Linked DNA regions of Homo sapiens. The protein of the gene in region 1 purifies or fractionates together with the protein of each later gene. This does not show direct contact. Each region holds a gene or a part of one and is shown in the gene's direction. Other genes may lie near its edges.

Region 1 (3,500 bases):
TGTAATACCAGCATTTTGGGAGGCCAAGGCGGGTGGATCACCTGAGGTCAGGAGTTCGAGACCAGCCTGGCCAACATGGTGAGACCTCATCTCTACTAAAAATACAAAAATTAGCCATGCCTTGTGGCATATGCCTCTAATCCCAGTTACTTGGGAGGCTGAGGCACAAGAATCACTTAAACCCAGGAGGCAGAGGTTGTAGTGAGCCGAGATCAGGCTACTGCACTCCAGCCTGGGTGATAGAGTAAGACTCTGTCTCAAAAAATAAAAAAAATAGTAACAATTTGCCCCAAACCATTGAATTGTATAATTTAAGTAGATGAAATTTATGGTATATAAACTGTTTTAAAAAAATAAATTATGCTTAACTGAATCCAAATCATGCATGTCCACCTTGCTTAAGAACATTATTGAGTTTTAATAATTTTTTATATGTGGAAAAAGACAGAGATCAAAATTGATAAAACCGGTGGCGGAATGCTCCTAGATGACATACTACCAATCAGGTCCCCTTATCAAGTAGTGGCTCTGTAGTAAAATCACATCTTACATGAGTGGTAGGTAGAAAGTGGATATGATAGAAAATATTATAGAAAAATATAATATAGAAAAATAGGGTAATTCCTTAAATTGCCCCTAAATCATGAAGGTTCTTTAGTAGTGGAAGACAGAGTCAGGTCTGATTTGGGAAAGGGGGCGTGGAGAAAGGAACACTGCAAGACAAAAAATTCCGTTTTAAAATTTTGCTCTCAGTAGTGTTCACTGAACACGAATGAAAGTTCACTAATGAATATAGGTAAGATATGACTTCTGTAATTCTTGTTTGCTTTTTGAATTATGAAGTATTTCAAACACTGTAGTTATTTTTTAACATAAGAGCTTGGACGGAAGTCAGATCTGAGTCTCCTTGAGTTAAATGCTTTGTTTGATTTGTTTTGACCCTAGGCATAACATCTCCAACCACATTATACGATAGGTACAGCTCCCCACCAGCCAGCACTACCAGAAGGCGGCTATTTGTTGAGAATGATAGCCCCTCTGATGGAGGGACGCCTGGGCGCATGCCCCCACAGCCCCTAGTCAATGCTGTCCCTGTGCAGAATGTATCTGGGGAGACTGTTTCTGTCACACCAGTTCCTGGACAGACTTTGGTCACCATGGCAACCGCCACTGTCACAGCCAACAATGGGCAAACGGTAACCATTCCTGTGCAAGGTAAGGAAGGCAGAGTTGGATATTGAGTTCCTTCTCTGTGGCATGTATTGAAAAGTTACCCGAGGTTTGGCTAGAGTGACATAGGGGACAGAGGAGTGATGGGGAGAGAGGGTTTGGGAGAGCAGAAATTGTAAACCTCTGCCCGGAGAACCTCTTATTATCAACATTTTCTTCATGCTTTTTTTCTCTGTCACTAGGTATTGCCAATGAAAATGGAGGGATAACATTCTTCCCTGTCCAAGTCAATGTTGGGGGGCAGGCACAAGCTGTGACAGGCTCCATCCAGCCCCTCAGTGCTCAGGCCCTGGCTGGAAGTCTGAGCTCTCAACAGGTGACAGGAACAACTTTGCAAGTCCCTGGTCAAGTGGCCATTCAACAGATTTCCCCAGGTGGCCAACAGCAGAAGCAAGGCCAGTCTGTAACCAGCAGTAGTAATAGACCCAGGAAGACCAGCTCTTTATCGCTTTTCTTTAGAAAGGTAATTTTTCACATACCTTATCAGAGCATGAGCTTGGGAAATACAAGTGTTAAACAAAGTTTGAAATGTTTTTATCTCCTAGGTATACCATTTAGCAGCTGTCCGCCTTCGGGATCTCTGTGCCAAACTAGATATTTCAGATGAATTGAGGAAAAAAATCTGGACCTGCTTTGAATTCTCCATAATTCAGTGTCCTGAACTTATGATGGACAGACATCTGGACCAGTTATTAATGTGTGCCATTTATGTGATGGCAAAGGTGAGTACCATTTGGAATTGTAAAGGCAAAGATAGGTCTTCATTACTGAGAACATTTTTTAACCACTGTCTTGAGATACAGTTTACATGCTCTATAATTCACCTATTTAAAATGCACAACTAAATGGGTCTTAGTATATTCACAGATATGTGCAATACTCACCACAATTTTAGAACATAATATTCCATTGTATAGTTATATGAGAGTATTTTTATCCATTTATTAGCTAATGTATATTTTAGTTGTTTCTACTTTTGGCATATATGCATAATACCACTATTAGCATTTGTGTTTGGGTTTTTGTATAGACATGTATTTTCATTTCTCTAGGGTATATACCTAGGAATGGGCTGCTGGGTCATACATTAACTGTGTTTTAACTATTTAGGGAATTGCTAGATTGTTTTCCAAAGTACTGTACCATTTTACACTTACACAGCAGTATAATAAAGATTTTAGTTTCTCCACTATCTCATTAACACTTACTATCTTACTTTGTTTAAATAACTTATTGAGGAGAAATTCACATAACATAAAATTAATTGGGTTTTTCTTTTTTTTTTTGAGATGTTGTTTCATTCTTGTCACCCAGGCTGGAGTGCAGTGGTGCATCTCAGCTCACTGCAACCTCTGCCTCCCAGGTTCAAGCGATTCTCCTGTCGTAGCCTCCCGAGTAGCTGGGATTACAGCCATGTGCCACCATGCCTGGCTAATTTTTGCATTTTTAGTAGAGATGGGGTTTGACCATGTTGGCCAGGCAGGTCTCAAACTCCTGACCTCAGGTGATCTGCCCACCTCGGCCTCCCAAAGTGCTGGGATTACAGGCATGAGCCACTGGGCCCAGCCAAATTAACTATTTTAAGTTGAACAATTTAGGAGCATTTAGCACATTTACAGTACTAAGTGTAATAAATGGTTGTATACTCACCACCTCTGTCTAGTTCCAGAACATTTCCGTACCTGCAAAGTAAAACTCCTTTCCTATTAAGTAGTTTCTCCCCATTCTACCTCCCACAGCACCTGGCAACCAGCAGTTGGCATTCTGGCTGTATGGATTTATCTGTTCTTAATCGTTTATAGAAATGGTACAATATGTGACCTCTTGTGTATGGCTCCTTTTACTTAGGATAATATTTTCCAGGTTTACCCATGTTGCAGCATGTATCAGTACTTCATTCCTTTTTATGACTGAATGATATTCCATTGTATGGATAGGCACAATTTTTTTCTCCACTCATACACTGATGGATATTTGGGCTGTTTCCAACTGTTGGCTATAGTGAATAGCACTGTTGTGAACAGGTATATCATGTACCTGTTTGAGTGCCCATTTTCAGTCCTTTTGAGTTTATTCCTAGGAGTGGAACTGCAGGGTCATATGGTGATACTATGTTTAACTTTTTTGAAGAACCACCGTACCATTTTCCACAGAAGCTGCACCATTTGACATTGCTACCAGTAATGCACAAGAGTTCCAGTTTCTCCACATCCTTGCCAACTTATTATTTTTATTATAGCCATCTTAGCGGGTATTGGGTGATATATCAT
Region 2 (3,039 bases), on another chromosome or scaffold:
CAGATAGTTTTCACAAAATATAGTGAAGACACACAATACAGAATGGTTTATTTGCAAGGTGTTGAGAAATGGTTCACGCAAGTCAAATCACTTTTGAGCCGTGTTTTGAAAAATGAGTAGATATTTACTGGCAATTGGGTTTGGGAGAGGCGAACAGACCATTCCAGATGTTATTTCACTTTTATTCTTTAGATACTGATTTAACACCTCTGTACCAACTACTATGATACAGATGCTAGAGATATGCTAAATGAAACAGCACATCCATAAAATGTATAGTGTGATGGAGTGGAGCACATCGTAAACAAAAGTCTAGAGGAAACTGAAAGTAAGGGAAGAGGTACAGAAAATTGAGGCTACAGAAGGGGCAAGGCCCAAATCATGAGGTTTTCCATATGCAGTAAGGAGTTTGGAATCCATCTTAGCAATAGCACTTGAGGTGTAGTGGAAATAATCAAGATTAGAGACAGGGACTTGGAATAACTCAGGCAATAAATAATGAGAGCCTAAACTAAAATGATAGCATAAGGGTGTGAAAAGGTTGGGGGGGCAGGGGGTGGGACATGTTAATGATACTTAAAAGGACAGAACCAACTGGGCACAGTGGCTCACACCTGTACTTCCAGCTGCTCTGGAGGCTAAGGCAGGAGTATCACTTGAGTCTGGAGTTGGAAACCAGCCTAGGCAATGTAGTAAGACCGTATCTCTATAAAAAGGGTGGAACCAACAGGACTGGGTCATTGATTTAATATGGGGGTTGAAAGTAAAGTGAAATATGATGGGTGCTCAGGATTCTGATTTGGGTGGGTGACTACCTTTCACTGAGGTAAGTTATATAGGAAATGGTTTCTGGAAAACATTAGTAAGGTCAGTTTTTAAACACTGAATCCAAGGTTGTCTTCTGGAATATCCAAATTGGTTATGACCAGAATGTGATTCATTATACTAAGCTAAAGGAATAGATTAAAGAATTAGCAACAGTGGCCGGGTGCAGTGGCTCATGCCTGTAACCCCAGCACTTTGGGGGAGGCCCAGGTGGGTGGATCATTTGAGGTCAGGAGTTTGAGACCAGCCTGGCCAACATGGTGAAACCTAAAAATACAAAAATTAGCCAGGTGTGGTGGCAGGTGCTTGTAATCCCAGCTGCTTGGGAGGCTGAAGCAGGAGAATTGCTTGAACCCGGAGGCAGGGGTTGCAGTGAGCCAAGATCACACCATTGCACTCCAGCCTGGGTGGCAGAGTGAGACTCTGTCTCAAAAATTAAAAAGCAACAGTGTATATGCAATAGTTGCAAGATGTAAGATCACCCAAAGAGTATGCAGAGGGAAATGAGGGACAGAACCCAGAAATATTAATACCCAGGGAGTGAACAGGAGGAGGACCCCAAGAAGTTACTGAGTCAGATTTTTCCCACTCATCCAGGTGAAAGTTTAGGTCAATAATGTGAAATACCAGAGGGATTAAATGTCTACAGAAATAAAACCATGTCTCACATTAAGACAAACAAGTAGGTTGGAGGGATATTTTGAAAGGCAAGGTGATATTAAACTTTATTCTGAAAGTAGTTTGTTAGAGAAAGAGGCATGATAAGAGTTGCAGTTAACTGATTGGAAACTATGCAGCAGATGAAACTGGAATAAAGGAAACTCATCAGGAAATGATTATAGTAATAAGGGCCAGAAATAAGGGCTTGCTTGCCTGAACTAAAAACAAAGAGGATACAAAGGTTCTAGAAATATTTCAAAGGAATTAGCTTTAATTCAGCAATACTCATTGAGAATCACCTATGCACCTGGCTCTGAAGATGAAGTGCTGAGTAAACTTAGACATGGACCCTGCTATCATGGAGATGGCAGATTATTGGTCAGAATGCTCTTACCTGTCATTGTAGCAATTTTGTTAGATCCTTAATACCTCTGAATTGCTAATAAACTTGTTTTGGCTGAAAAAATAGTCCTGTGAATTTTACCATGCAGTTAAATAAGAAACTAAAAGCAAACCTAAATACCACCAAAAAGGTTAGTAGTCTGTTATATGCATTAGCCTTAATCTAAGGAAATATTTTATTATAGGTCTCCTTGAAGAAAATGATATTTTCAGGAATGCTCAAGCAGGTGTTCTCATCAGCACTAATAGTCATCCAATCTTAAGGAAAAACAGAATATTTGATGGATTTGCCGCAGGTTTGTATTTTCTTTTCTTACCTGTGGCTTATATATAGTTCTGCAAAGTGTTTGATGTGGAGTATATTCATTTTGTTTTGCTTATTAACTAAAATGTGCAAAGTGTGCTGAAGTGGCTGAATGCCTGTTCATTCACTTACAAGAGCACCTAATCAAGTTCTGGATTCTTCTACTCTAAGCCAGACTCCTAAGAAATATTGCTCTTATTGCTTAGTCGTGATTATGAAACATTTATTGGGATAGAATAAATGCAGGCTTGTATTACCACTAGGAATACAGATAGATTCAATTCCTCAGATGAATTTACCAGTTTAAATCTGCAACAGAAAAAGAGATGTTAAAATGGATGCAAATGAAATCCAAGTATCATGTATTTAAACTTTAAGACAGTTAGGTTGGTGCGAAAGTTAATTGCAGTTTTGACCATAGTCATTGATAAGTGAATGTTACTGTTGGTGGTTGAAATAGGTATCTACATTTTATTCAGTAGACATTAAGAGGGTTAATGTACTTCTATAAAAGAAGCAGTTTACATTTGCTTGCTAATTTCAGGTTTTTAAGAAGCAGTATAAAGTGATGTATCTACTTGTTTGTAAATTTTACTTCAGGTATTGAAATTACAAATCACGCAACTGCAACACTAGAAGGCAATCAGATTTTTAACAACCGGTTTGGAGGCTTATTTTTAGCATCTGGTGTTAATGTGACAATGAAAGGTATGTTGGAGTCTGCTATACCTATAAATATATGCAATATGCCATGAAAGATAATCAGAAGCCGTTTTATAACTTGATTCCTTATGTCACTCTCCAAGTTAGCAACAGTTTAAGATAGATTTTGAAAGAAACAGAGCTTT
Region 3 (3,500 bases), on another chromosome or scaffold:
CTGTGATCACATGCCTTATGTGTTTAACTTTTTTGTATTGCTCTTGAGAAAACATTTTTTTTCACTTTTAATTGCATTTATTTTAGTGCTGAATTTACTCCTGTGCCATAAGTTTTTGTTTCTTCAGTTTCTTCTGGGATATCTTTTTCTTCTGGGCAACCGCCTCTTCTGGTTTAGGAACAATTTGTTCCTTTTCACTAAAGATCATTTCGATGTGGCAGGGAGAGATCACGTGTGAGTTAATCCGACCATGAGCTCTGTAGGTCCGTTGGCACATCGTAGGTGCTTTGTTCACTTGGAGATGCTCAATGACCAGAGAATCTACATCTAAACTCTTAAGTTCAGCATTACTCTCTGCATTTTTAAGCATGTGCAGCAAAAATTCAGCACTCTTTTTGGGCCACCAACCTTGTGTCCAGTCCCACTGCTTGGCCTGGGTACACCTACCAACTCCACCATTGTAATGTCAGAATGGCACATGCTGTTTCTGTAAAGTGACATTTTAAAAATACTTCATGGTGTTTTTTTTTTTTTTTTTTTTTGGAGACAGAGGTTTGCTGTTGTTGCCCAGGCTGGAGTGCAGTGGCACGATCTCGGCTCACTGCAACCTCCACCTCCTGGGTGCAAGTGATTCTCCTGCCTCAGCCTCCTGAGTAGCTGGGATTACAAGCATGCCACCACGCCCAGCTAATTTTTTGTATTTTTAGTGGAGACGGGGTTTCACCATGTTGGCCAGGCTGGTCTCGAACTCCTGACCTTAAGTGATCCACCCACCTTGGCCTCCCAAAGTGCAGGGATTACAGGTGTGAGCCACTGTGCCGGCCACTTTGTGGTTTTTCATATATGCATACCCTTGATAGCCTGGGCAGTTTCACGAGTGTTCTTACAGTGAACACAAAGATTTGAACCTCTTGATTTGCATGATTTTGTGGGGTTTTCCAGGTAAAGTGAATAGCCAGCTATTTTCACAGATTACTTCAGACCACTTATGGGAAAAGCAACGTGGTTATCTTTTAACAGCAACCTTTGTAAAGTATAAATAAGTGGAACTAGAAAGCACTCCCTTGAAATCTGCAGGTTTGGATGATCATAGTCCAGGTTCCCACTGTGTTACTTCAGGCTTCTATTTATTCATGCAAAGGAAATTGTTTCCAAAAATTAAGGCAGAAGTTTTTTTTCTTATTTACTTTAAGAGCTTCTTCCAAGTTCTAATTAAAAGTTGCATTTCAATGTCTGAAAGTTGAATTTTATCTATGTGAAACAGAGTTTGTATATTACATGGATTGCACAATTTAAATTATGTTTTTTAGCCGGGCATGGTGGGTCACGCCTGTAATCCCAGCACTTTGAGAGGCTGAGGCAGGTCGATCACTTGAGGCCAGGAGTTCGAGACTAGCCCAGCCAACATGGTGAAACCCCATCTCTACTAAAAATACAAAAACTAGCCAGGCTTGGTGGCAGGCACCTGTAACTCCCAGCTACTTGGGAGGCTGAGGCACAAGAATCGCTTGAACCCAGGAGGTGGAGATTACAGTGAGCCAAGATTGTGCCGCTGCACTCTAGCCTGGGCCACAGAGCGAGACTCTGTCTCAAAAAAAAAAAAAAAAAAATATATATATATATATATGGTTTTTTTCCTCTCTTTCCATAGCTGGGGATGTTCAAAAGAAGTCTGGCTAAACATGTTAAAAAAGGAGAGCAGATATGTTCATGACAAACATTTTGAAGTTCTGCATTCTGACTTGGAACCACAGATGAGGTCCATACTTCTAGACTGGCTTTTAGAGGTATGTTACAGCAATACAAATTTCCTTTGTCTCTGTATGATGGAAACATATTTAGCTGTAAATGTGCTTTCTATGTACTCTCAAGAGTTTATTGTTCATCCCCAGGAAGCTGTCTTTTTTGAGGTACTTACTGTAGTTGATTGCACCCAAAGTGGAAAGTGACTCTATAAGAGTAAAACCATGACAAAGCTACTACATATAACTAAACCCAATTCAGAATTCCTGTTACCTGTGGATACTGCTGTGTACCAACCACTTTCTGGGTGCCACAGATACTCAAGGTGAATGGAATGTATAGTTGATTAGGTTTTGAATTATGCTATACAAAGTGAAGAACTAGAACTAGGCTTCAGGGCCCTCTGAAGTCTTTTTCTGTATTAACAAAATCATGATGATGAGGAATCCTGATTTCTATATCCTAAACCATAATGAGACTATGGATATCTGGAAGCTCTACGCCCTCTATTGTCCAGATACCTTCTCTTTATTATATTCTTCTATTCTTTTCCGAAATATACCATTAATTTAAAGGAATAGTGATCCTGAAGCCCCTATAGATTTGTGCCAGATTTTTCTCTCTTGTTTAGGTCCATTCCCTTTCCTCTGGATAATAGCTCTAAAAAAGTTTCTAAAATTATTATTAAGGAAATCATTACTTATGTTGATGACAAACTGATTTTTCCTCCAACTCTTGGATATTTGCTCTGTAGTCTGTCTTTAAGACAAGAGATGAAGCATTCTAAGGGAAAAAGACCATAGACTTTTTGGAGGAGGAACACATGGCAGAATAGATCTCAGAAGCTATCAGAACAGTTTTTAAGACTAAAATGTTATCCTTTTGCATCAGGTCATCTTTTTCCTTATTCTGACTAGAAGGAAAGATTGTATTTTAATTGTGGGCACAAGAAGGCATTGGGTTTTGACTTTTTCTGACTGTCTAGTGATCATGGAATCAACTTAAGCACAATTATGTTAATTTTTAATTTGTTTCCTTTTTGTTATACTGATATTCATCCAGTGGTTATCCAATTCAATTTGTTCCTGTTTTTACCTAAATATGATTATGTATGCAACAGCATACAGAATATATCAAATCCAGCAGTGTTAAACTCTATCTTAGTGTATTCTTCAGTCTAGGAATGCAAACTTGATTCAACATTTGAAAATCTATTAATTTATTACCTTAACAGTAAATAAGAAAAATGCTAAGATCTCAATAGATGCAAAAGACATTTTTTGAAATTCGACATTCTTTTTTTTTTTTTTGAGACGGAGCCTCGCTGTTGTCACCCAGGCCAGAATGGAATGGCACGATCTCAGCTCACTGCAACCTCTGCATCTCGCGTTCAAGCGACTCTCTTGTCTCAGCCACCCACATAGCTGGGATTACAGGCGCAGGCCACCACACCTGCTATATTTTGTATTTTTAATAGAGATGCGGTTTCACCCTATTGGCCAAGCTGGTCTTGAACTCCTGACCTCAAGTGATCCGCCCGCCTTGGCCTCCCAAAGTGCTGGGATTACAGATGTGAGCCACCGCACTCGGCCAGCAAAAGAGATTTTCTTAACTCATTATTAGAAACTCATGTGGCCAGGTGTGATGGCTCATACCTGTAATGCCAGCACTTTGGGAGACTGAGGCAGGCAGATCAGTTGAAGCCAGGAGTTTGAGACCAGCCTGGCCAACATGGCAAAATCCCATCTCTACTAAAA
Region 4 (3,500 bases), on another chromosome or scaffold:
AACAAAATTGATAGACCGCTAGCAAGACTAATAAAGAAAAAAAGAGAGAAGAATCAAATAGACACAATAAAAAATGATAAAGGGGATATCACCACCAATCCCACAGAAATACAAACTACCATCAGAGAATACTACAAACACCTCTACGCAAATAAACTAGAAAATCTAGAAGAAATGGATACATTCCTCGACACATACACTCTCCCAAGACTAAACCAGGAAGAAGTTGAATCTCTGAATAGACCAATAACAGGCTCTGAAATTGTGGCAATAATCAATAGCTTACCAACCGAAAAGAGTCCAGGACCAGATGGATTCACAGCAGAATTCTACCAGAGGTACAAGGAGGAACTGGTACCATTCCTTCTGAAACTATTCCAATCAATAGAAAAAGAGGGAGTCCTCCCTAACTCATTTTATGAAGCCAGCATCATCCTGATACCAAAGCCGGGCAGAGACACAACCAAAAAAGAGAATTTTAGACCAATATCCTTGATGAACATTGATGCAAAAATCCTCAATAAAATACTGGCAAACCGAATCCAGCAGCACATCAAAAAGCTTTTCCACCATGAGCAAGTGGGCTTCATCCCTGGGATGCAAGGCTGGTTCAATATACACAAATCAATAAATGTAATCCAGCATATAAACAGAGCCAAAGACAAAAACCACATGATTATCTCAATAGATGCAGAAAAAGCCTTTGACAAAATTCAACAACCCTTCATGCTAAAAACTCTCAATAAATTAGGTATTGATGGGACGTATTTCAAAATAATAAGAGCTATCTATGACAAACCCACAGCCAATATCATACTGAATGGGCAAAAACTGGAAGCATTCCCTTTGAAAACTGGCACAAGACAGGGATGCCCTCTCTCACCGCTCCTATTCAACATAGTGTTGGAAGTTCTGGCCAGGGCAATCAGGCAGGAGAAGGAAATAAAGGGTATTCAATTAGGAAAAGAGGAAGTCAAATTGTCCCTGTTTGCAGACGACATGATTGTTTATCTAGAAAACCCCATCGTCTCAGCCCAAAATCTCCTTAAGCTGATAAGCAACTTCAGCAAAGTCTCAGGATACAAAATCAATGTACAAAAATCACAAGCATTCTTATACACCAACAACAGACAAACAGAGAGCCAAATCATGGGTGAACTCCCATTCACAATTGCTTCAAAGAGAATAAAATACCTAGGAATCCAACTTACAAGGGATGTGAAGGACCTCTTCAAGGAGAACTACAAACCACCGCTCAAGGAAATAAAAGAGGACACAAACAAATGGAAGAACATTCCATGCTCATGGGTAGGAAGAATCAATATCGTGAAAATGGCCATACTGCCCAAGGTAATTTACAGATTCAATGCCATCCCCATCAAGCTACCAATGACTTTCTTCACAGAATTGGAAAAAACTACTTTAAAGTTCATATGGAACCAAAAAAGAGCCCGCATTGCCAAGTCAATCCTAAGCCAAAAGAACAAAGCTGGAGGCATCACACTACCTGACTTCAAACTATACTACAAGGCTACAGTAACCAAAACAGCATGGTACTGGTACCAAAACAGAGATATAGATCAATGGAACAGAACAGAGCCCTCAGAAATAATGCCGCATATCTACAACTATCTGATCTTTGACAAACCTGAGAAAAACAAGCAATGGGGAAAGGATTCCCTATTTAATAAATGGTGCTGGGAAAACTGGCTAGCCATATGTAGAAAGCTGAAACTGGATCCCTTCCTTACACCTTATACAAAAATCAATTCAAGATGGATTAAAGATTTAAATGTTAGACCTAAAACCATAAAAACCCTAGAAGAAAACCTAGGCATTACCATTCAGGACATAGGCATGGGCAAGGACTTCATGTCCAAAACACCAAAAGCAATGGCAACCAAAGCCAAAATTGACAAATGGGATCTAATTCAACTAAAGAGCTTCTGCACAGCAAAAGAAACTACCATCAGAGTGAACAGGCAACCTACAACATGGGAGAAAATTTTCGCAACCTACTCATCTGACAAAGGGCTAATATCCAGAATCTACAATGAACTCCAACAAATTTACAAGAAAAAAACAAACAACCCCATCAAAAAGTGGGCAAAGGACATGAACAGACACTTCTCAAAAGAAGACATTTATGCAGCCAAAAAACACATGAAGAAATGCTCATCATCACTGGCCATCAGAGAAATGCAAATCAAAACCACTATGAGATATCATCTCACACCAGTTAGAATGGCAATCATTAAAAAGTCAGGAAACAACAGGTGCTGGAGAGGATGTGGAGAAATAGGAACACTTTTACACTGTTGGTGGGACTGTAAACTAGTTCAACCATTGTGGAAGTCAGTGTGGCGATTCCTCAGGGATCTAGAACTAGAAATACCATTTGACCCAGCCATCCCATTACTGGGTATATACCCAAAGGGCTATAAATCATGCTGCTATAAAGACACATGCACACGTATGTTTATTGCGGCACTATTCACAATAGCAAAGACTTGGAACCAACCCAAATGTCCAACAATGATAGACTGGATTAAGAAAATGTGGCACATATACACCATGGAATACTATGCAGCCATAAAAAATGATGAGTTCATATCCTTTGTAGGGACATGGATGAAATTGGAAACCATCATTCTCAGTAAACTATCGCAAGAACAAAAAACCAAACACCGCATATTCTCACTCATAGGTGGGAATTGAACAATGAGATCACATGGACACAGGAAGGGGAATATCACACTCTGGGGACTGTGGTGGGGTCGGGGGAGGGGGGAGGGATAGCATTGGGAGATATACCTAATGCTAGATGACACATTAGTGGGTGCAGCGCACCAGCATGGCACATGTATACATAGGTAACTAACCTGCACAATGTGCACATGTACCCTAAAACTTAGAGTATAATAAAAAAAAAAAAAAAAGAAGAAAAGTACAATTGTTCCAATAGAAAAATGTGAGAAAGGACTGAACAGACAAATCATTAAAGCAGGAGTCAGCAAACATTTTCTATAAAGAGCCAGATGGTAAATATTTTCAAACTTTGTGGGCTATATGAGTGAATGGAGCTATAGACAATATGTAACAACATGGACAGCATGTGTTCTGAAACAGGCATTACAAAACCAAGCACCAGATTTGACTCATCAACCATAGTTTGGTAGTCCCTGCATTAAAGAAACATAGATGTCTAACAAATATAGAAAGTATTCTTATTAGCCTTAGTAAGCAAATAAGTTAAAATTATTACAAGATAGCAGTTCCACTTTAGTTACCAAATTAGAAAAAAATATATTTTAAAAATAAGAATACTCCATTTTGATGGACACATATGTACTGTTGGAGGGAATGAAGATAAGTAGACTTTCTAAAAAGTAATTTGATTATGTATATCAGAACTCTTAAAAGTTTATATCTTTGAAATTTCTAAATACAAAGATACGAACTTTTAAGAAATGTAATATACATTCTATTTCTAAATTATA
Region 5 (3,342 bases), on another chromosome or scaffold:
AACCAATTTCATTTTTTTAAATGACCACACTCATTTGTCATTGTTTCTGTCAATCTTCTCGGGCTTACTCCTTCACTCCCTTCTCTGTATGATCATAGTACTCAATATATTATTTAGCTCAATTACAGAAGTTATCACACAGGGTTTCACAACTGATTTTGAATGTCTCCCCCAGTGTTCTAGGCTCATCCAGGATAATTCTTCCTTTCTCATCTCTTGTATCTGCACTACTCTTAATTTAGGTCTAGTATATTTTTTACAAAACGTTTTTGAATAAATGAGTAAGTCAGATCCTCAGACTATCTAGACCAGATCTAGCAGTACATGATATATTTTGGAAAGGCACTATTATATTCCCTAAGAACCTCTCTTTCACTTCCCTCTGATTTGAATAACTTTCAACTGCCAAGCTTTGAGAAAAGAATATAAAAGGGAGTGAAAATCTCCATTCCAAACTTGATAGGCGGTCTAAATTTTAAATGCATTATTTCTTCATTTTTTCTTGGATTTTGCAAGCTTTTGGGAAATTTGTTTCAATTTTAATTTTGCTTTAAATAAACCTAAAAAACTTTAGCTTGAAGATTAACAACTCTGCAATTTGAAGAATTTAGTTTGATGGCTACTCAGAAGATTCAGTAAGTAATTTCACAGTTCTTGATTATGAAACCTAAATATATGTTATGTTTTCTGTAGGCAAAATCCCAAACTTGTTACCTGAAGGTTCTGTAGATGGGGATACCAGGATGGTCCTGGTGAATGCTGTCTACTTCAAAGGAAAGTGGAAAACTCCATTTGAGAAGAAACTAAATGGGCTTTATCCTTTCCGTGTAAACTCGGTATGAGACAACAAAATACATCTTCCTAGCATATATTTTAGGGCTTTTGACAAGATATAGACAGAAAAATTAGAGACCGCTCATTATAGACTTGCTAGTTAGAAGTTATGCATGTTGGACAGTTGATTGACTCTTTAGAAACAGTATAGGTAAAGGGGAAGACTGTGGCTTTTTAATTATACATGCCCAGACTCCAACGTTGGCTCTACCACTTATTTCAAAGGGCTGTAAATATTGAGACATGGCACGGTTCCTGGCCCATAGTAAGAACTAAACAAGTGTTTTAGAATTATGGTTGTCATTACCATTGTTGTCCATCTTACTAAATAATGGGTATAAAGTTGAACAAGCTAATAACATCAGAGTACCCACTGTAAGGATGTACAAATAATTTATTTTGTTGATTTAAAAAAATCACATTTATCCTACACTAAAGTAGAACCAATCCTCCTTTATGTCTAATTGTAAATCTCTTGATATCTTATAATCGACTTCCATATTTTACCTTTTAATAATATTAGGCTCAGCGCACACCTGTACAGATGATGTACTTGCGTGAAAAGCTAAACATTGGATACATAGAAGACCTAAAGGCTCAGATTCTAGAACTCCCATATGCTGGAGATGTTAGCATGTTCTTGTTGCTTCCAGATGAAATTGCCGATGTGTCCACTGGCTTGGAGCTGGTAAGACATTCAGATATTTAAGTTTCTGGGGCTATACCTACCTTTCGTGAGATGAGATGAATATATACTCCTTACAAATGGTGTGGTAATTTCTCATGGAAATATATGAAACAGTTGATAGTAAATATGGCATGCCTCTACATTTCATTCAAAGCCTTAACTATGTCATACGTGTTACCTTCTTGTAAAAATCTGACCAATCTGTTAACTTTCTATATCACCCACAATATAGTAAAGTCACTGATTTTTAATATTAGACTTAAAGTTGTTTTCCTTCTTTCTAATACTTGCTGTATTTTCTTTTGTTTGTTTTGTTTTGTTTTGCTTTGCAGCTGGAAAGTGAAATAACCTATGACAAACTCAACAAGTGGACCAGCAAAGACAAAATGGCTGAAGATGAAGTTGAGGTATACATACCCCAGTTCAAATTAGAAGAGCATTATGAACTCAGATCCATTCTGAGAAGCATGGGCATGGAGGACGCCTTCAACAAGGGACGGGCCAATTTCTCAGGGATGTCGGAGAGGAATGACCTGTTTCTTTCTGAAGTGTTCCACCAAGCCATGGTGGATGTGAATGAGGAGGGCACTGAAGCAGCCGCTGGCACAGGAGGTGTTATGACAGGGAGAACTGGACATGGAGGCCCACAGTTTGTGGCAGATCATCCTTTTCTTTTTCTTATTATGCATAAGATAACCAACTGCATTTTATTTTTCGGCAGATTTTCCTCACCCTAAAACTAAGCGTGCTGCTTCTGCAAAAGATTTTTGTAGATGAGCTGTGTGCCTCAGAATTGCTATTTCAAATTGCCAAAAATTTAGAGATGTTTTCTACATATTTCTGCTCTTCTGAACAACTTCTGCTACCCACTAAATAAAAACACAGAAATAATTAGACAATTGTCTATTATAACATGACAACCCTATTAATCATTTGGTCTTCTAAAATGGGATCATGCCCATTTAGATTTTCCTTACTATCAGTTTATTTTTATAACATTAACTTTTACTTTGTTATTTATTATTTTATATAATGGTGAGTTTTTAAATTATTGCTCACTGCCTATTTAATGTAGCTAATAAAGTTATAGAAGCAGATGATCTGTTAATTTCCTATCTAATAAATGCCTTTAATTGTTCTCATAATGAAGAATAAGTAGGTATCCCTCCATGCCCTTCTGTAATAAATATCTGGAAAAAACATTAAACAATAGGCAAATATATGTTATGTGCATTTCTAGAAATACATAACACATATATATGTCTGTATCTTATATTCAATTGCAAGTATATAATAAATAAACCTGCTTCCAAACAACAATACATTTGTTGTCATTTCATTAGGTCTGCAGATCATAGACCTTGACTCCTAGGAGTTGAGCATTATGACTCACTTGTGAGAACTCAGAAAAAATAGACAGGATGAAGGAGCCAAGGACATAACAACCTTCATTCAAAAAGACCCAATGTTGAGGGTCAGTGGGATGGGGTTGTATGAAAAATGGGTTAGAGCTGCTTTCTCACAGCAGCAAAGACATAGCAATTCAGAATAGTCTAGGTTAGAGTCCTTTGGGGAAACCACTGTCTAAACATTAAGGACACCAGGATTAATGACCAAGTCCAGTGGTCCAGACACAGAAGAAGGCCTCAGTCATTGAGCTCAGAGTTGCAAGCAGTGAAGATGGGAGATGGGTTGGGTGCAAGAGCAGGAGGGGAAACATAAGATGGCTCTTTCTAAGTGTGTTTGTTTCTAATAGCAGTAATGCTTTTGAATGAGTCAGAGGCAGAGGAGAACATAATTGAAGACCTGAGAAATAAGGC
Region 6 (3,500 bases), on another chromosome or scaffold:
ATAAATCTTTGGTTTTGTTAATACAGTCTGGTCTCCTGCTGTGGTCCTGCAGTTTTAAAAGTTGTGAACTGCTGAATAGTTGCCTGTTTGAAAGGTGGGGCAGCGTTGGATTCAGACTGCCACTATCAAATGACAGACTTTTTCTTTACCCTGAACCTTAAGTTACAGCACGAGAGAGCATCTGGCTGCCCTTCATGGAGACAGAGCTGCACTGTGATGAGAAGACTATCATCATTGGCCACAGTTCTGGGGCCATCGCGGCCATGAGGTGCGATCTTTGTTAAACTGCTATCCCCTTTGTGGGCTCCAGTCATGCTTGCTTGAGAAATACCTTGCGTATATCTTAAATTTCTGTTGCAGAGGAAACAGTGCTGACCTCTAAAGTGGTAACATAATCTGTCCTAATTCCTTCCTGGTTTTGCTAGTGGATTGAAAGAAAACAAAAAATCTGCTCTTATTGAGATGCAGTGATCCTTTTAAAGCATAAGTGGCTGCAAACCCCAGTAGCTTCCCATCAGTCAGCTCTGATTCTGTCTCTACAGACTCTCCTTCTCTCCTCCCAGCCAGGTTTACTGACCTCATTGCAGTTCCTGGAACATGCCAAGTACATGCACATCTTAGCCTGCTCTCATCCTTCTACCTGGGATACTCTGGCCCTAGACACTGCATGGCTTTCTATTCCCCTTGAAGTGTCTGCTCAAATGTCCCCTTTTGGTGAAGCCTTCTCTAATCACTCCATATGAAATGGCTTCCTCACTCTACTGGCTCCTATCTCTTTTATATCTTATTATCTGCAGCACTTTTTACCATCTGACATCCTGTTTATTTCTTGTCTGTCTCCTGCCAATAGAATGTAGACTCCATGAAGGCAGGGCTTTGTTCACTCTGGCACTGAAACCCCATTGCCTAGAAGAGAGCCTGGCATATGGTAGATTGTGTCTGCAGTGTTACTCACCTGCGAATCCCCAGTCCTTAGGATTCGTATGCACATCCCTACTGCTCTCATTAGAATATTACATCTCCCCTTTTAGCCTTATAAGGCCTAGTGGGTAGGGACTTAGCTGGCTGAATAAGCTAAGTTTAGCCTATAAGGGTTGAGTTTCTTTCATATTTGCTAGGCAAAATGACAAAGGATAATAGTTTTTATTTGTCCCAAGCAGTCACTTAGGCTGTCACATGAATTGCATGTCAGGGAATCTTGCCAAATTTCATAACCTTTCAGCCACACTGATTAAAGTTACAAGAGTATTTCAGGATGGAACCACAAAATTATGGTACACTCCCAGTGTAAGAATGTTATATGCTGCCAGGGGTTGTCTGGAAAAGGAAGAGCTCCTTGTATTATTGAATTCTGTTCCAACTCAAGGCCAACTGCATTTTTCTCAAGCCATTGATTAGTAAAGGTGTGCCTGCTTTTAAAGATCCTTGAACTCACTGCAGGATTCTTAGCAACCTTCTAAGAATTGACTTCTAAAGTTAAGGGAGGCAAGGAGAAAAATGGATGCCAAAACGATTGGGTTAAGGTTGTAGAATTTCCTATTGACAAAATCATAGAGGACTACCCTACAGATGACTCTAATCATGAAAGGGAAATCGTGCCTTTCCAATGGAGAAATCAGGTGGATATCACTTTAAGCAAATGATCAAACTTAATCTCACCAATAATAGACTGGCATCATGTGTCCCCTGATGTAATGGCATGGGAAGGACACAGCATCACCTATGCAGTATCCTTGCCAGAAATGTTTACCTCAGTCTAGTTAGGAGGAAACAGACAATCCTATTTAGAGGATAATGTACAAGACAACTGGCCTACACTCTTAAACAATGTTAATGTCATTTAAAACAAAAAAATTTTAAAGTGACTGAAGAGCCATGAAAATAAAATGCAATGCATAATCCTTGACTAGATCTAGGATTGCAGAATGTTTTAAAGGACATTTTTGGTACAGTTGGGGAAAAATGAATACAGATAATATTGCTGTATCAATGTGAAATTTATTGGGTGTAATAGTGGTACCATGGTTAAGGGAGTGGCTTTCTCAGGAGATACATGCTAAAGTACGGGTGAAATGTGACAAAATTAATGAATCTAGGTGCTTGTTCTTTTTTTTTTTTTTTTTTTTTTTGAGACAGAGCCTCCCTCTGTTGCCCGGGCTGGAGTGCAGTGGCACAATATCGGCTCACTGCAACCTCTGCCTCCCAGGTTCAAGCAATTCTCCTGTCTTAGCCTCCCGAGTAGCTGAGACTACAGGCGCCTGCCACCACACCTGGCTAATTTTTGTATTTTTAGTAGAGACGGGGCTTCACCATATTGGTCAGGCTGGTCTTGAACTCCTGACCTCAGGTGATCTGCCTGCCTTGGCCTCACAAAGTGCTGGGATTACAGGTGTGAGCCACCGTGCCCGGCCTAGGTGCTTGTTCTTTCAACGTTTCTGTAGGTTTGATATTTTTCAAAATAAATGGGGAAAAAAGTTCAGGCCCAAGAACAAAATACCAACCCTAACTCTTTCTTGGCACAAAGGCCCCTTGAAATTATTACTACTATGTGTCTTTCCTTATCCCAGTCTTTGCTGAGGGAGACTGCTCTCTGCAAATATAACTGTGGTTTTTGCCAATAAAGGAGACTCACTCTACTGGCTCCTATCCTCTTTATATCTTATTATCTGTAGTACTTTTCACCTAGATCTAGTCAATCCTAGATCTAGTCAAGGATTATGCATTGCATCTGACATCCTGTTTATTTCTTGTCTGTCTCCTGCTTACTTTTAATGGCAAAAACTGCAATTACTTTTGTACCAACCTAAGAGTTAGCTGGGTGTCTACTTGCCAGGCACTGTAATGGGCACCAGGAACACAAAGATCAATAGGACTCATGCCTGCCTTTAAGGAGCTGACAATTTATTGAGAGAAATGTACATAAGACAACACAAATGAATAATATAAGGCAATGTGGAGTGTGTGGTAACAAAGGTACATTTCTGGTATTATACAGTGTTTCTTAAAATACAGTTCACAGACCACTTGCATTAGAGTCATCTGGGTTGAAGGAGGGATCACGCCTTAAAATGCAGATTCTAGGCCTTAATGCCAACTTTCTGAATCAGAGACTCTGGGTCTGAGCCTGAGAATCTGCATGTTCACCAACCAAGTGACACTGATGCATACTAAACGTGGATGGATTACACATTTTTTGTTTATTGGGAAAGGTTTGTACAAGTTTCAACTACCTTGAAAAATGGGTAGTGGCTGGGCGTGGTGGCTCACGCCTGTAATCCCAGCACTTTAGGAGGCCGGGGTGAGTGGATTATTTGAGGTCAGGAGTTCAAGACCAGCCTGGCCAACATGGTGAAACCCCGTCTCTACTAAAAATACAAAATTAGCTGGGCGTGGTGGTGCATGCCTGTTATCCCAGCTACTCAGGAGGCTAAAACAGGAGAATTGTTTGAACCCAGGAGGTGGAGGTTGCAGTGAGCCAAGATTGTGCCACTGCACTCCAG

The links.
Region 2: the proteins of RBL2 (region 1) and FBXO11 purify together in Homo sapiens (co-immunoprecipitation; one large-scale study listed by IntAct). This does not show direct contact.
Region 3: the proteins of RBL2 (region 1) and CCNE2 purify together in Homo sapiens (co-immunoprecipitation; one large-scale study listed by IntAct). This does not show direct contact.
Region 4: the proteins of RBL2 (region 1) and TMLHE purify together in Homo sapiens (co-immunoprecipitation; one large-scale study listed by IntAct). This does not show direct contact.
Region 5: the proteins of RBL2 (region 1) and SERPINB2 purify together in Homo sapiens (affinity purification with western blotting; one study listed by BioGRID). This does not show direct contact.
Region 6: the proteins of RBL2 (region 1) and RBBP9 purify together in Homo sapiens (affinity purification with western blotting, with the first as the bait; one study listed by BioGRID). This does not show direct contact.

What each region holds. Positions count from the first base shown.
Region 1 is NC_000016.10:53,468,971-53,472,470, forward strand, and holds part of RBL2 (retinoblastoma-like protein 2), read left to right. Parts: intron 1-945; coding exon 946-1,215; intron 1,216-1,412; coding exon 1,413-1,693; intron 1,694-1,775; coding exon 1,776-1,952; intron 1,953-3,500. UniProt on the Homo sapiens protein: Key regulator of entry into cell division. Directly involved in heterochromatin formation by maintaining overall chromatin structure and, in particular, that of constitutive heterochromatin by stabilizing histone methylation.
Region 2 is NC_000002.12:47,809,460-47,812,498, reverse strand, and holds part of FBXO11 (F-box only protein 11), read left to right. Parts: intron 1-2,072; coding exon 2,073-2,183; intron 2,184-2,397; exon of another isoform or gene 2,398-2,500; intron 2,501-2,791; coding exon 2,792-2,899; intron 2,900-3,039. UniProt on the Homo sapiens protein: Substrate recognition component of a SCF (SKP1-CUL1-F-box protein) E3 ubiquitin-protein ligase complex which mediates the ubiquitination and subsequent proteasomal degradation of target proteins, such as DTL/CDT2, BCL6, SNAI1 and PRDM1/BLIMP1.
Region 3 is NC_000008.11:94,888,702-94,892,201, reverse strand, and holds part of CCNE2 (G1/S-specific cyclin-E2), read left to right. Parts: intron 1-1,651; coding exon 1,652-1,787; intron 1,788-3,500. UniProt on the Homo sapiens protein: Essential for the control of the cell cycle at the late G1 and early S phase.
Region 4 is NC_000023.11:155,515,453-155,518,952, reverse strand, and holds part of TMLHE (trimethyllysine dioxygenase, mitochondrial isoform 1 precursor), read left to right. Parts: intron 1-3,500. UniProt on the Homo sapiens protein: Converts trimethyllysine (TML) into hydroxytrimethyllysine (HTML).
Region 5 is NC_000018.10:63,901,047-63,904,388, forward strand, and holds the end of SERPINB2 (plasminogen activator inhibitor 2), read left to right. Parts: intron 1-693; coding exon 694-836; intron 837-1,357; coding exon 1,358-1,522; intron 1,523-1,854; coding exon 1,855-2,259; 3' UTR 2,260-2,842; downstream 2,843-3,342. UniProt on the Homo sapiens protein: Inhibits urokinase-type plasminogen activator. The monocyte derived PAI-2 is distinct from the endothelial cell-derived PAI-1.
Region 6 is NC_000020.11:18,490,726-18,494,225, reverse strand, and holds part of RBBP9 (serine hydrolase RBBP9), read left to right. Parts: intron 1-162; coding exon 163-268; intron 269-3,500.